Homo sapiens: one gene and its partner. The gene in region 2 interacts genetically with the main gene of each other region. Each region holds a gene or a part of one and is shown on either strand. Other genes may lie near its edges.

Evidence for each region.
Region 1: changes in ENDOD1 (region 2) and SREBF1 together harm fitness more than expected from each alone (negative genetic interaction), as found in Homo sapiens cells (one large-scale study listed by BioGRID).

Annotation. Positions count from the first base shown.
Region 1 is NC_000017.11:17,826,818-17,830,634, reverse strand, and holds part of SREBF1 (sterol regulatory element-binding protein 1), read left to right. Parts: intron 1-3,817.
Region 2 is NC_000011.10:95,096,199-95,100,015, reverse strand, and holds part of ENDOD1 (endonuclease domain-containing 1 protein precursor), read right to left. Parts: intron 1-3,817. UniProt on the Homo sapiens protein: May act as a DNase and a RNase. Plays a role in the modulation of innate immune signaling through the cGAS-STING pathway by interacting with RNF26.

The DNA of each region.
Region 1 (3,817 bases), on a different chromosome or scaffold from region 2:
CTAACTGACTCCCCGTCCCTGCACCTGTCTCCCAGCAGGCCTTGCCTCTGCATGCTGCCCCTGCCAGGCTCTGGGGTCCCTGTGCTCCCTGCAGCTAGAAGGCTGGGATCAGGGGTCTTAACAAGCAGCCCTACTGTATGACCTTGGACAAGTCCAAGAACCTTCAGGTTCTTAACAATGTAAAGGGAGCAGTACTAAAAGCAGCTTCTTGGAATTGTGGGGATCCGATGAGTGAAGGCTTAAGCAGTGCATGGCACATAGTAGGCCCTGAACCAATGCCAGTTAGTGTTATTATTATCACCATTTAGCCAGATGCAGTGGCTCACGCCTATAATCTTATTGACTTTAGAGGCTGAGGTTGGAGGATTGCTTGAGACCAGGAGTTCAAGACCAGCCTGGGCAACATAGCAAGGCCCTGTTTGTTTTAGAGAAAACAAACAAATCACCATTTAGAGCACCTAACCAGTACCTGGCACGCGATAGGTTTAGCTCAACAAATGTTAGCAGCAATTACCCAAGGAGCCTGTGCTGGAAGTTTCTAGGATGTACCAGGCTATGGTTCCAAGTTCTGAGCATCTACCATGTGGTGGTCTGGAGTTGGTGAGAGACAGGATGGGGCTGACTAGGCCAGTGGGGAGCACCCCCCGCCATGGGGAACAAGCACCCTATCCTTGGCTTCCATGGAAGATAATTGATGCTGGGCACAGTGGCTCACGCCTGTAATCCCAGCACTTTGGGAGGCTGAGGCAGGGGGATCGCTTGAGTCTGGGAGTTCAAGACCAGCCTGGGCAACATTGTGAGACCCAAACTAAAAAAATTAGCTTGGCATGGTGGAGTGTGCCTGTCGTCCCAGCTACTCAGGAGGCTGAGGCTAAAGCTGGAGGATTGCTTGAGCCCAGGAGGTTGAGGCTGCAGTGAGCCATGATCATACCACTACACTCCAGCCTGGGCAACATAGTGAGGCCCTGTCTCAAAACAAACAAACAAAAAGAACCTGCTGAGGAAGCAGTGTTTCTGGCTGGGGGAGGACGGGCAGAGTGGCCATCTGGCCACAGATGGCGGTTTCTGTGCAAAACACATCAAGGCAGCCTTGGAAATGTGAGTGAAAGCACCTTCAAAGTTCTGGTCACAGCCTTGGGACTAAGCAAAGCCACCAAAAGTACATAAAAGACAATGACCATCACCCAGTGCCGGTGATGCTAGAAGGAAAGGGAATACGTTGTAGGGAAGGTTGTAAAGGGCTTTATCTTTTCCAGACTGGAGCCTGGCAGCTCGAAAACATCTTGCTGCCTTCATATGAGCTTTAAAACAAGCTGCAGAGAAACAACTCAAGAGGGAGAAATATATATATATATGTGTGTGTGTGTGTATGTGTGAGTGTGTGTGTGTGTGTGTATACATATATATATATATATATATATATATATATTTTTTTTTTTTTTTAAGATGGAGTCTCGTTCTGTCACCAGGCTGGAGTGCAGTGGTACAATCTCGGCTCACTGCAACCTCCGCCTCCTGGGTTCAAATGATTCTCCTGCGTCAGCCTCCCAAGCAGCTGGGACTATAGGCACATACCACCACGCCCAGCTAATTTTTGTATTTTTAGTAGAGGCTGGATTTCACCATGTTGGCCAGGATGGTTTTGATCTCCTGACCTCGTGATCTGCCTGCCTTAGCCTCCCAAAGTGTTGGGATTACAGGCGTGAGCCAGTTTGTTTTTAGAGACGGGGTCTTGCTCTGTCACCCAGGCTGGAATACCATGGCACAATCACAGCTCGCTGCAATGTTGAACTCCCGGGTTCAAGGGATCCTCCCACCTCAGCCTCCAGAGTAATGGAGACTACAGGCTCATGCCACCATGCCCAGCTATTTTTAAAACTTTGTAGAGATGGGGCCTTGCTACATTGCCCAGGCTGGTCTTGAACTCCTGGGCTCAAGTGATCTGCCTGCCTTTGCCTCCCAAAGTGCTGTTATTACAGGTGTGAGCCCCTGCGCCTAACCTTAGCACTGCCATTTTGACTGAAAACAGGTGCCCAGCAGCAGGGGCTACTCCCAGAATTGCCACTGCATCAGGCCCGTGGGTTGTTTTCAGCTGCCAGTGATAAGTATGTGCCCTGGGCCACCTCTCGGACAAGGTGTCTGAATTGGTGCCGACCAGCATCACATGTAATTGCCATCTCGCAGGTGCTGCTGAGGGTAATTCCGCACACCTGTAGCTCCGGGAAGAGCCTAGTGGGGAGGAGGAAACGTGGCTCTGAGGTTTATAGGGTCAGACGGTCAGTATGTTGGGAGCTGGCATGTGGAGGGGCACAGACAAGGGAAGAATGGGAGGTGGCATCAGAGCAAGTTTTGATGGAGGAATAGGAATTCACCAGGTGGAAAGGGCATTCCTGGTGGAGGGAACAGCCTGGCCTTCAATAGCTTGTGGTGTTCAGAAAGCAGGCAGGGAAAGGGAGGCCCAGGGAGACACCAGTTAGGGGATGGGGGTGGAGGCAGACGAGGGTGGAGGAAGCCATGGCTGGAGTCTGCACGGCCTCTGACTGGGGTCCCTGCTGTGGTCAGCCCTGTGCTGGGTGAGGCTGGGGTCACAGCTGGTTCAGGCCCTGACAGGAGGGGCCCCCAGCTGAGGCCCAGCCTCTAATTTGGCAGGGCAGGTGGATAGGTCTGGGGGGGTGGTGGTTAGGAAGCCTCCAGGAGGAGGCAGTGCCGGAGCTGAGCCTTAAAGAGCTTCGTGTTGTCCTCTCTGTCTTTGCACTCTGCACACACTCACTGAACTGCGACAAATGAGGATAGCTGGTCAGGGCAGAGGCAGGCCGGAGTTGGGGCTCACTGCTGTCCCCCACAGGCTGGGGCTGAAGGGCAGGCTCTGGGGCCGCAGAATGGGGTTTGTGTACCAGATTCTTCATATGGCAGCTGTGGGACTTTGGGCACGAGGCCTCCGTCTGAGCCTTAGTTTCCTCAAGAGGACCTGCGCCCAGGTGCACCTGGGGCTCCAGCCATGGGTGCGTCCCATTCCGGGAAGAGCTGGCACACACTTGTGCCCCCGGGGCAGCCATGAGTGCACAAAGGGCAGCCTGTGCCACTGCTGGATACACGACCAGCTGAGAACACGAGGACCGCCGACTCCAGTTAGGAGGATCAAGGAAGTGCCTGGTGGGAGCAGAACAGCAGGTGGGGTGCAGCCCAGCTCCCTGGAGGGATGGTGGGCACCCATCCTCACCCTGCTGCCTCCATTAGCAGGCCGAGAGGGTGTGCTCTGGAATCCCATGAGCACCTGTGCCACATCCTCCCCTGTGGCTGACCCTTCTTCACAGTTGGTGCAGCTTTGTGGTCTGTAGTGCAGGGATCAATTGGCAAATCCCTTTCCCACCCATTCCCTGGAGAATTGGGGTCCTTGGCTCAGATGACAGACCAACCTGAGTTGGAATCCCAGCTCCTTGGTGGCCGTCCTGGCCTCCACCCCCTCACTGCCTCCGCTCCTCCTATCCTGCCCACGCCCACTGCAGGGCCTTTGCACACACTGTTTCTTCTGCCCTCCCTTCCGGCCCACTCCCTCATATCATTCAGTCCTCCTTTCAGATGTCACCTCCTAAGATGGGCTGCCCTGACCACCTCATCTATAATGGCCCCAGTGCCTGGCACAGGATTGGCACACAGTAGATATTGTCAGAGATGGATCTGGGTTCTGTGGACAAGGCTGTGGGGGCAGGTGAAGAGCTCCCTCTTCCAGGAGGTTGTTTGGGGTTCAAGGCCTTGTTTGGGTTGTAGGCTTCTGTGCTGGTCAGCGTTGGGCCCTACAAGCGCATGCCATGAGGCC
Region 2 (3,817 bases):
AAACTTGGCTTTCTTTTCCCTGTGTTTCTGCGTGTCCCGAGAACATAGTGGATGCCCAATCTTTCAGAAACATCAACCGTAGATATTTCATTATGGGGTTCCTATTTAACCATGCATCCTGGTCCATTTAATCAACAAAGTTGACTTGGATCCCTTAGTTATAAACACTAAGATAACAGCAAGCAGATTTCCTGAAACCAGTGCTGCCATCTCACAAACATAGAGGGAAGGCACATTTACCAAGCTGTGATAAAGTCGGTATAGGGACAAATGCAAGAACCTGCAAAGATGAAGGACTTTAACTTACTAAACAGTCATAAAGGAAAAAGGAATTTTGGCACGTTCAAGGAGGTATACGTTCTGAGTTAGAGCAAAGTCCCTCCTCTTGTCCCAAAGTAGGACTTACTGCATTACTGGGTTATTAAGTTTAAGTGTTCTGCTGGTCTTCCTTCCTGGGAGCCAAGCTGGCTGCAGAGAAGGAGCTCCTGAACAGACTAGGGCTGGATGATGGATGTGTGGGTCTGCCACCTCTGCTCAAGGAGCGGAGCTCTGGAGGGTGTAGTCGGCCTGGGCACCTCCTTCCCACCCCTAGGGACAGCTGGCATTGAGACAGGAGATGGGCTCTCCTCAGGCTCATGCACCACATCCAATCCAACAGCCTGTCTGGCAGCAATGTCTCCATACGCCCAGAGATGCAAGACTCTATCCCCTACCCTCTTATCTCCGCTACTCACTGAGATGCAGGGGACAAAATCTGTTGCTCAACAGAGTTAACACAGTTTTTGGGTGATCCATTTTTCCCAGCTCTAACCTGGTGCCTTATGGAAAATGTCTGCTTGCATAAGGATAATAGGAAGAGCTCAAGATGGATCAGTATAGAACAAGACTGTACAAGGGGGCAGAGCACCCTCGGCCCAATGGAGTACTTGCAATAACCCCACCCTTCCTATAGCCACAAAGGTACACCTGGAGGTGGTGAGCCTCTGATATTCATGGGCGTGTGACTGCCAGAGCTAGAAACACACCCTCTATAAAATCCTGGTAAATGAACATGTGAACTTTTAAAAGATAAACTTCATTCAAGAGCATTCAATAGGAGCTCACCCAACACATCAACAGGTTTGCAACAGAAGCAGTCCATGTGTGCTCTGGTGTCAGACAGCTCAGGTTCAAACCCGAGCCCCACCTCTTCTTAGCTGTGTAAAAATGCAATAGTAGTTTAACCTCTCTGGGCCTGTTTCCTCCTCTAAGAAGGATAATAATAGTACCTATTTCTGACGATGCTGAGGATTACATGAAATTACATGTGAAAAAAAAAACACTAGAAAAGTGCCTCCTGCCATATGATAAGCATCCAATGAGCTCTAGACTGTACTTACTTGAAGGTCAATTGAATACCTGAAGGTATCTCGCACTCAGAGTGCCCAAAACGGAGTACCTTTTCCTCCTACAGCTGTATCAAAGTATAACTGATATACAAAGAATTGTACATATTTAATGTGATGAATTAAATGTGCAATAAATATGTAATAACCCATCACATAATTAATGTGCTGGGTTTGGATGTATGCAAATACCCATGATACAATCACAACAACCAAGGAGGGAGACATGTCCAACACCTCCCATACTTTCCTTGTGTCCTTTTGTTTGTTTTGTGTGCGTATTAAGAAAACTTAATATGAAATCTACTCTCTTAACAAATTTTGAAGTGCACAATACAATATCATCAACTATAGGCATTACATTGTACAGCAGATCTCTAGAACTGATTTATCCCATGTAACTGAAACTTTATACCCATTAAACAAGAGCTCCTCATCTTCCCCACCCCTCAGCCCCTGGTAGCCACTATAGGTTGAGCATCTCAGATCTGAAAATCCAAAATCCAATATGTTCCAAAATCCAAAGCTTTTTGAGTACTGACATGACATTCAAAGGAAATGCTCATTAAAGCATTTCAGATTTCAGATTTCCAGATTTGGGAGGTTCAGCCACTAATTCCAAAATCCAAAAAAAAATCTTCAAACTGAAACACTTCTGGTCCCAAGCATTTCAGATTAGGGATACTCAACCAGTATTATATTCTTGCTCTTATGAACAAAAGCGAGTTCTTGATATGGCCCCCAAACAGCCCCTCCTTTTGTATCCTTGTCTTATTCATGACAACTCCATTCTTCTGATTATTCAGGCCCAAACCCTTGGAGTCATCTCTTCCCTTTCTCTCACTCCAAAGACTATGAGCTCTTTCTTCACAATATATCCAGAATATACAGTGCTATCATCTTGATCCAAGATACTACTGTCTTGTCAGATCACTGAAACCTCCTAACTGGTTTCTTTGCTTCTGCCCTTAACACCACATGTCTATTCTCAATGCAGCAGCCAAAATGGTCCTATTTAAATGTAAGCCAGATCACATCGAAGCTCTCTGCTCAGAACCCTGCACAATTGCTTCCCACTTCACACACAGTAAAACCCCAATATTTTACAAATAGCTCAGAAGAATCTAAATGATCTGCCGTCTCCTTCCCCACTTCTCTGACCTCATCTCCTGCTACTCTCATTTACTCTTCTCTAGCCAAACCAGCCTCTTAGTTCTTCCTCAACACACTCATGCCTCCAGGCCTTTGCAATTACCATTCCCTTTACCCAGAACGTTTTCCCCCTCTATAGATGCCTGCATAATTGGCTTTCTTACTTCTTTCATGTCTATACCCAAAAGTCAACTCCTCAGTGATCTCTTCCCTGGATGGAAACCTTGTTTTAAACTTCACCTTTTCCTTGATATCTCATAGCCTCCTTCCTTGCTTTTTCTCCTTAACACTTATCACTGTCTAATATGCCTTTTTTTTTTTTTTGAAACAGGGTCTTACTCTGTCCCCCAGACTGGAGTGCAGTGGCATGATCTCAGCTCACCACAGCCTCTACCTCCCAGGCCCAAATGATCCTCCCACCTTAGCCTCCATGAGTAGTTGGGACTACAGGTGCATGCCAGCACTCCTCGCTAATTTTTGTAGAGATGGGTTTTTGCCATGTTGCCCAGGCTGGTCTCGAACTCTTAGGCTCAAATGATCAGACCGCCTTGGCCTCCCAAAGTAGTGGGATTACAGGCATGAGCCACCATGCTTGGCACCTTGTCTTTTATTTATTTATTTTATAATCTATATTCTCTATTAGATATAAACCCTATGAGAGTAGGTATTTTTGTCTGTAACCACTGCTCTCTTTCCAGGACTTAGAATAGTGCCTCACACATAGCAGATGCTCAATAAAGATTTGTTGACTAAAATGAATTGACAGAGGGCTCAGGGCTTTCTTAAAGCATTAGGTGTCCCTGCCAACTGGAAGTCAATAAAAACTGAAGACCAATCAGCCCTTAAAGTATAAGTCAACTGAAACATGTAATTACATTTATATTTTCAAATAATATTTCAGCCATCTGTTTATTCTACAAAGTAAAATGTACCCGTATTTTCAGCTTTGATTAAAAATATAAACTACCCTCTGTTTGACCTTTTGATTGAGCCACACTTCTGTTCAGCACTAGGTCAATGAAGCATGACTGGAATATTAAACGGTGCTTCTATTCTTGGTTCAGCCTATGAGTCAGTTTCTTTTTCATTTCTCCTTCCTTTCAGTGGCCAAATAGATATATCGACAGGCAATGAATTATTACTATGACAGATGTTAAGTTTCATGAAAATGAAAGGGTAAGTCACCATTCAGAAGATATAACATGCATCTTGAAGGAGGAAATTTGAAAAAAAAAAAAAAAAAAAAAAAAAGCTTTCTTGACTAACAGTAATTCTAGAAG